Linked DNA regions of Homo sapiens: region 1 is linked to region 2. Evidence: fine-mapped expression QTL. A gene starts in region 2. The other region holds a variant in brackets. All regions are shown on one strand. Distances are between the middles of the regions.

Region 1 (4,387 bases), 26 kb after region 2:
ACAGAAGAAAAAATAGTTTAAAAAACCTTTTTGTTTTTCCATTAAATATTCTTTAATAAATATGTACTACTTTGAACATAAAAAATGCTTTTCTTTAAACTATGAGAATAGAAAATGCTTATTTGTTTGAAATGTAACCCTGGCTTTCTCTTTCTACTGTATTCTACCCATTACTATTCTATATTTTGTATTTTATTATATTATTACTATTTTTGAGACAGGATCTCACTCTGTCACCCAGGCTGAGTGCAGTGGCATGATCACAGCTCACTGCAGCCTTGACCCCCCCAGGCTCAAGTGATCCTCCCACCTCAGCCTCCTGAGCAGCTGGGGCTATAGGTGAGTGACACCACACCTGGATAATTTTTTGTTTTTTGTAGACAGGGTCTTACCATATTGCCCAGGCTGGTCTTGAACTCCTGGGCTCAACTGATCCTTCCACCTCAGCCTCCTGATTAGCTGGGACTATAGGTGCGTGCCACCACATTTGGTTCATTTCTTATGTTTTGTACACAGGGTCTCGCCATACTGCCCAGGCTGGTCTTCAACTCCTGGGCTCAAGTGATCCTCTCACCTCAGTCTCCCAAAGTGTTGGGATTACAGGTGCGAGCCGCTACGCTCAGCCTTTTTTATTTTTATTTATTTATTTATTTGAGTCAGAATCTAGCTCTGTCACCCAGGCTGGAGTGCAATGGTGAGATCTTGGCTCACTGCAACCTCCGCATCCCGGGTTCAAGCAATTCTCCTGCCTCAGCCTCCAGAGTAGCTGGGATTAGAGGTGCCCGCCACCACTCCCAGCTAGTGTGTGTGTGTGTTTAGTAAAGACAAGGTTTCACCATATTGGTCAGGCTGGTCTTGAACTCCTGACCTCGTGATCCACCCACCTCTGCCTCCCAAAGTGCTGGGATTACAGGGGTGAGCCACCACACCCAGCCAGCCTATTTTATTTTATTTTATTTTGAGACAGGGTCTCGCTCTGGTGCTGGAGTGCAGTGGCATGAGGTTGCTTACTGCAGCCCCAACCTTTTGCGCTCGAGTGATCCTCCCACCTCAGCCTTCTGAGTAGCTGGGATCATAGGCACGTCCTACCATGCCCAGCCAATTTTTAGTTGTTGTTTACAGACACAGTGTCTCTTCCTAATGCAGTCTCCCTTAGTATCTCACTGGTCTTTAAGTAAAAAAGAAAAAATTTAAAAATTGGAATAACAAAAGATATGTGGTCTCCCTGTGTTCCCCAAGCTGGTCTTGAACTCCTGGGCTCAAGCAATCCTCCTGCTTCGGCCTCCCAAAGTGCTAGGATTACAGGTGTGAGACACTGCACCTGGCCTACTCTTCTATAATAAGAGTCTCATCTTTCTCTTATGTTGAACGTGATACAGATACTGGGTTCTTTTTAACTTTTTTTTTTATTTGAGATGGAGTCTCGCTCTGTCGCCCAGGCTGGAGTGCAGCGGCGCGATCTCGGCTCACTGCAAGCTCCACCTCCTAGGTTCACGCCATTCTCCTGCCTCAGCCTCCCAAGTAGCTGGGATTACAGGCGCCCGCTGCCACGCCCGGCTAATTTTTTGTATTTTTAGTAGAGACGGGGTTTCGCTGTGTTAGCCAGGATGGTCTCGATCTCCTGACCTCTTGATCCGCCCGCCTCGGCCTCCCAAAGTGCTGGGATTACAGGAGTGAGCCACCGCGCCTGTCATCTTTTTAACATTTTTTAAGGAATTCTTATTTGCCATGAGCCAAGGAATGCACAGAGACTAGATTCCCATGGACAGCTCACTCCTACCGAACACATACAATGGGACACACCTGTGCTGGGTGAAAGGCGCAGCCTAGAGGGCTGGCAGGTGTTGGGTGAGGCTCAGGTTTCAGGCTGAGGGGAGGAGGGTCAGCTGGCAGATCCTCAGCAACTCTGGCAGCCTCACAGGGCCACAGCCCCCCTGGAGCTCTTGGTTCCCCCAGGGTCAAACCAGGTCTCAGTCATGGAGCTAGGATCAAGCTTTCCTACCCTCCTCAGTAGGAGGCCCCCTTCTTCCC[A/G]GGAGGGAGAGCTAGGGGAAGGGAGATAGTGGAGGGTGAGGGAACGGCATTCGCATTTGTAAGCAGTGCCCTGGAGCTGCATGCTGGAGATAAGAGAAGGCCCCTCCCGAGGCTGGGAGCAGAGGGAGCTGCAGCCTGAGGCTTGGGCAGGACAGGTGAACCCAGGTTTCCCAACCACTGAATCACCCTTTGCCCCACCACGCACATGCGCTCTTGCGTGTGGACGCACGTGCACACACACGCACACCCCACAGCTTCCACGTGGCAATGTGTCTAAGCCCAAGATCCTGGACAGCCCAGACACAGAACTGCCATGAGAACCCACAGCAGTCCCACTCGGGAGCCCTCATCAGCACTGCTGAGTGCCAACCGAACAACAGTGAGAACGAGAACACAGACCCTTATCCTGGGACCACACAGTTGGCTTCTCAAGGCTTCATGAAATTCTTCTTTTTATTTTTTCTTTGAGACACAGTCTTGCTCTGTCACCTAGGCTGGAGTGCAGTGGCGTGATCCTGGCTTACTGCAACCTCTGCTTCCCAGGCTCAAACAATTCTCATGCCTCAGCCTCCCAAGTAGCAGGGACTACAGGCATGTGTCACCACACCCAGCTAATTTTGGGGGTATTTTTTCTTCTTTTTTTTTTGAGACAGAGTCTCACACCATCACCCAGGCTGGAGCGCAGTTGTGCGATCTCGGCTCACTGCAACCTCTGTCTCCCAGCTTCAAGCAATTCTCCTGCCTCAGCCTCCCAAGTAGCTGGGATTACAGGCACCTGCCACCACCTGCTAATTTTTTGTATTTTTAGTAGAGACGGGGTTTCACTATGTTGGCCAAGCTGGTCTCAAACTCCTGACCTCGTGATCCACATGCCTCAGCCTCCCAAAGTGCTGGGATTACAGGCATGAGCCACCGCGCCCAGCCTAATTTTTGTATTTTTAGTAGAGATGGGGTTTCTCCATGTTGGCCAGGCTGGTCTCAAACTCCTGGCCTCAAGTGATCCGCCCACCTTGGCCTCCCAAAGTGCTGGGATTACAAGTGTAAGCCACTGTGCCTGGCCTAAATTCTTCTTTAGCATCATGCAATCTGCCTTAATTGAGAAATGTTATCACGAAAACCCACATGAAACTCAATATTGCACTTACTGTAGGAGCTATTATTGGAAGCTAGTGATCCTGAGAACTTGCCTAGAGTTTCAGTGCAAGAAAAGGCTGGCTTCGGCTGGGTGCAGTGGCTCTCGCCTGTAATCCTAGCACTCTGGGAGGCCGAGGCGGGTGGATCATGAGGTCAGGAGATCGAGACCATCCTGGCTAACATGATGAAACCCCGTCTCTACTAAAAATACAAAAAAAAAAAAAAAAAAAAAAAAAAGCTGGGCATGGTGGCGAGTGCCTGTAGTCCCAGCTACTCGGGAGGCTGAGGCAGGAGAATGGCGTGAACCCGGGAGGCGGAGTTTGCAGTGAGCCAAGATCGTGCCACGGCACTCCAGCCTGGGCGACAGGGCAAGACTCCGTCTCAAAAAAAGAAAAAAAAAAGAAAAGGCTGGCTTCTCCTGATTAATGGTCATCTTATTTTTGACACAATTTGTAATAACTTTTTTTTTTGAGACAGAATCTTGCTCTGTTGCCCAGGCTGGAGTGCAGTGGCGTGATCTGGGCTCACTGCAAGCTCTGCCTCCTGGGTTCACACCATTCTCCTGCCTCAGCCTCCTGGGTAGCTGGGACTACAGGCACCCGCCACCATGCCTGGCTACTTTTTTGTATTTTTTAGTAGAGACGGGGTTTCACCATGTTAGCCAGGATGGCCTCGGTCTCCTGACCTTGTGATCCACCCGCCTCGGCCTCCCCGAGTGCTGGGATCACAGGCGTGAGCCACCGCACCTGCCACGTAGAGCCTATTTTCTTATCCATAAAACAATACCTACTTCACGGGGTTGTTCTGAGGATTAAGACAATCTATGTAAAATAATTAGCCAATACACAACCTATAGCATGCTCAGTAAATGGTAGCTGGTATAACAATTATGGGTTTCTTGTTTGTTTTTTTGTTTGAGATGCAGTCTGGCTGTTGCCCAGGCTGGTCTTAAATTCCTGGGCTCAAGCAGTCCTCCCGCCTCGGCCTCCCAAAGTGTTGGGATTATGAGCACGAGCCACCACATCCGGATAAAGGAAGTCCCTGTCCGGGATCACCTGAGGCTAAAGAGAGCTGCGTCACCCAACGTCATGCTCCCCCTAGGGACAGCTGCATTCCTGACAAGGGCCATCCCAGCTCCAGAGAGTCACTCCTATTGAGAGATTTGCTGAGGCCTTTGTTTCCTGAGCTCCAGGCCGACGTCCCCTAATCCTGCAGCCCTGCC
Region 2 (4,387 bases):
GTAGAGACAGGATTTCACCATGTTAGTCAGACTGGACTCGAACTCCTGACCTTAGGTGATCCGCCTGCCTTGGCCTCCCAAAGTGCTGGGATTACAGGCGGGAGCCAATGCGCCCAGCCGAGGGTCATTTTTAACTAGCATTGTGATCGATTCAGGTTTAGCTGGGAATCTTGCTCCATGACATTTAAATACATTATCAGAGGCAAGTAACTGCCTCGCCTTAGGGCGGAGTTAGCCAAACTGCTGTCTATCTAACAATCTTCAACACAGGCTAGGTTTACAGCCACCATTACTTGATAAGAACATCCAAAGGAAATTGAAGGATGCTATGCTATATATAACCTTGCAAAATCGATGACAAAAATTATCTTAACTCTGAGTTTTCTTGAGAAGCATATTGTAACCCAAAATTCAGGGCCGGGGGGCGGGGGGAACCAGCAGGGTCCACAAGTACTCTAGACAGCCTAACCTTAATTTTCACAGTAAGCTTAGCATATAAGCATGGGGTAGCCAAATACAATTTCCTACTTTAATCCTCTTATCAACGGGGAAGAAAATGGAAAAAGCTGCAGAATCCAGTCCCCCGGGTAAGTGAGGTCTCTACAAGCAGTAAGCAGAGGGAAAGCGTTATCCGAAAAGAGCCGAATCAGAATGTATTTTCTTACCCACCCTCCCAACCTTAAAAGAACTGTCCAGCAGAATGTGACACAATCGGCCTCTCCGGCGCCCATCAATCCAGCACAGCCCTCTGACCACACCGCTAATCTCCAAGTATCTTTCACAAATAAGTCACTCCTATGGCTCCCGTCTTGTAGTGAGAACTGCTAGCAATATTCTTAATGTGAACACCTGCGGCGTTCAGTCGGATTCTGCCTTGAGAAAACAGAATCCACACACAAGGCGAACAGGCAGAGCATGGCAAGATCAGGTTGTACCAGAGCCGAAGGGTAAGTTTACAGAAACCCGTATCTAATTAATGCCTGTAACACGCTAGTAACCGAATCGGGGACAGCTTTGTCCCTTTCCGCAGTGAGAACGGGGCCCGCCCGGAGCCCGGGGAACCGAAGGTTTAGGAGCCCAAGGTCACCCACGAATCCCAGCCGTTCCCTGGGGCGACTTCCTGGAGCAGCCACGTGTTCCCCCGGCGCCGCACGCCGCGCAGCTGCACCTTGGCTGCGCCCGCGCTCCCGGACCCGCAGCCCGGAGCCGGCGCACTAGGGCCTGCGGCCTTCAAGGGCGAGGACCCGAAGTCCCCGGGGCTGAGAGCGACAGTGGGGGTACACCTGGTCTCGTCATTCGTCGCTCTGTGACCGAGGAGGCGGGCAAGAAGGCAGAGAGAAGGGAAGGGACGAGAGGCGAAGGGACGAGAGGCGCAGGGACGCCTCTGCGCACAGCCGCCGACCCCGTGTACCTGCAGCCGCTCGAGGCGCCGCCACAGCCCCTTCCCCACAGGCTCGCGGCCCCGCTCCATCCCGGCCGCCCCGCCTGGGGCCGCGACCGCTTTCCCGCTCCCCGTGCGGCTCCCTATGGCTGCTGGACAGCACCGGAGCGGCCGCTCCAGCCAGCCCCGCAGGATGAAGGGAGGACACGAGGGTCGGTGTAGTTCTAGAAGCCCGCACTCACACTAGCGCGTCCTCCGTCCCGAGCCGCCACCCGATATCCCGACGCTCTGAGGGGATGGCGGCCCCTAACCGGCGGTTTATAGCCTGGCCCCGCCCCCGGCCCCCAGGGGGGCTGTGCGTCACTTCCTGAGGCACGTACGCTCGCGAGGTGCTCTGACAGATCGCCCGGGGGGCGGGGATGCGCGCGCAGCGGGCGGGGCCCTATGCGGAGGGCGCTGCGGGCGAGGCGAAGGCCAAGGGAAAAGGCGCCAAGGCAGCAGGTGCCCCGAGGAGCCGCGCGATGGGCGCACTGGCCTCTGCCTCGGCGCCTTCCTCCACCCTGGTAGCCTGGCAGCCTCCGCCTGACCTTGACCAACCTCCAGTCCCTGCAGTGCTAGGTCCAATCTGTTGGCGTTGACGCTTAAATGTTGGATATTGCACTGCGGCAGTGCCTTGAAATGTACGTGCAGGATGGAATGTTAGGTAACTATTAAAGCCACTCTTGTGAAGATGTATTTTGCAGCCTCAGAAATACAAAAAGGAAAAGAAAAGCAAAATGCAAATTTTTATTCAGAATGTATACAAGCTGCACTTTAACCAAGACTAGCGGAGTGCTTTGCGTAATGTTTAATGCATGAGGGAATAAAAGGGAAAATAGAAACAAGTGACTTAATAGGGTGATAGGATTGTAGATTAACTTTCGTTTTCATTGCCATCGCTGTTATTGGATTGTGCAATGAATAACAAATAAATAAAATTCAATTCTTGTCACTGTTTAAACTCTTTCCAAACAATCACACCCTCTCCCTCCCTCTGGTCAGTAACCAGCAGGCCAGGGAGGTAGTAGCTACAATGCAAGAAAGCAACCCATACCTTAAAAAGCATTGCACATAAACTGACCTTCAGGCCCGTAGGGACACAGAACAGCCCTTTAAGAAGCAAATCCGTTTCTGGGCCTTGGGCTTTTACTCTTCCCTTTATTTCTTCTGCTCTAAGATAGAGAAAGTACTTGGGATTCTCACCGCCTTTCTCTTTACTCCCATTCTCTAAAATCTCTCTCCCCAAAGAGAAGTGTTTAAAAGTCATATGAGTTGCCAGGCGCGGTGGCTCACGCCTGCAATCCTAACACTTTGGGAGGCCGAGGTGAGCGGATCACGAGGTCTGGAGTTCGAGACCAGCCTGACCAATATGGTGAAACCCCATCTCTACTAAAAAAATTTCAAAAAAAATTAGCCAGGCATAGTGGCACGCGCCTGTAATCCCAGCTACTCAGGAGGCTGAGGCAGAAGAATCGCTTGAACCCAAGAGGCGGAGGTTGCAGTGAGCCAAGATCGCGCCATTGCACTCCAACCTGGGCGACAGAGCAAGATTCCATCTCAAAAAAAAAAAAAAGTCATATGAGCAGGAGCATTGCTGCACCTTTAATGATCTAATCAGGAAAAGGTTAAGGATGCACATCCACAGAGGGCCTACCTTAACATTCAGACACCAGGCCTGCTCCCCTGTGGTGTTCCTTCTTTATTTCTTTAATTATTAATTTTATTTATTTTTATTATTTTTACTTTTAAGACAGTGTCTTGCTCTGTCACCCTGGCTGGAGTACAGTGGCATGATCTCGGGCTCACTGCAACCTCTGCCTCCGGATTCAAGCGATTCTCCTGCCTCAGCCTCCCAAGTAGCTGGGACTACAGGTGTGTGCCACCATGCCAGGCTAATTTTTGTATTTTGAGGAGTGACGGGATTTTATCATGTTGGCCAGGCTTGTCTCGAATTCCTGACCTCAGGTGATCTGCCCACCTTGGCCTCCTAAAATGTTGGGATAACAGGCATGAGCCACCATGCCCAGCCTATTTATTTTTTATTTTTAATTTGACGCAGGGTTTGCTATGTAGCCCAGACTAGTCTTGAACTCCTGGGCTCAAACAATCCTCCTGCCTCCGGTCTCCCAAAGTGCTGGGATTATAGGCATGAGCTAACATGCCTGGCTTTCTGCCTTTCCTTGACTGAAGTATCTTTTAAAAAGAAACAAACAATGCTGGTATTTGCAGGTGAAAATCTTATAGCCTCATGGAGGACATAGGTTTAGGTGGCCAGATGCGATGGCTAATCCCTGTAATCCCAACACTTTGGGAGACTGAGGCAGGTGGATCTTCTGAGGTCAGGAGTTCAAGACCAGCCTGGCCAGCATGATAAAACCCCATCACAACTAAAAATACAAAATTTAGTCTGGCGTGGTGGCGCACACCTGTAGTCCCAGCTACTCCAGAGGCTGAGGCAGGAGAATCGTTTGAACCCGGGAGGGGGGTGGCTGCAGTGAGCTGAGATCACACCACTGCCCTTCAGCCTGGGCAGCAGAGCAAGACTCTGTCTCAAAAAAAAAAAAAAAAAAGAAAGAAAGAAAGAAAAGAAAAGAAAGAAAAATATGTTTAGGAGACATTTAGAGGCCAGGACCATTTGGACATGAAAATTCAAATCTCAAAAATTTATATTCACTAAAATAAAACCATAAACGTGACACTAAAGAGGCTATCAATTATATTTTTATTTTTATGCTGTTATTAGTATTAATAGACACTGCAATTAAAGTCCACTTATTAACACTTTTACTATTTATTTATTTATTTTTAAACAGTCTTACTCTGTCACCCAGGCTGGAGTGCAGTGGCGCCATCTCGGCTCAATGCAACCTCCACCTGGGTTCAAGCGATTCTCCTGCCTCAGCCTCCCGAGTAGCTGGGATTACAGGCACGTGCCACCACGCATGGCTAATTTTTTGTATTTTTAAT

Evidence for each region. PIP is the estimated chance that this variant, and not a neighbour inherited with it, causes the effect. A credible set is the group of variants that fine-mapping cannot tell apart.
Region 1: its variant is the best candidate, but not a certain one, in a credible set for the expression of TFRC in whole blood (TOPMed, PIP 0.86).

The regions. Positions count from the first base shown.
Region 1 is chr3:196,106,357-196,110,743 of GRCh38, forward strand. No RefSeq gene overlaps it. Among named protein-coding and RNA genes, the nearest start is that of TFRC, 26 kb to the left of the region's middle. The variant A/G (reference allele first, on the strand shown) is at 2,032.
Region 2 is chr3:196,080,420-196,084,806 of GRCh38, forward strand. TFRC (transferrin receptor) reads right to left here and starts at 1,671. Exons shown (of 19, transcript NM_001128148.3): 1 at 1,624-1,671. RefSeq lists an enhancer at 1-422 and silencers at 1,304-1,603, 1,654-1,993.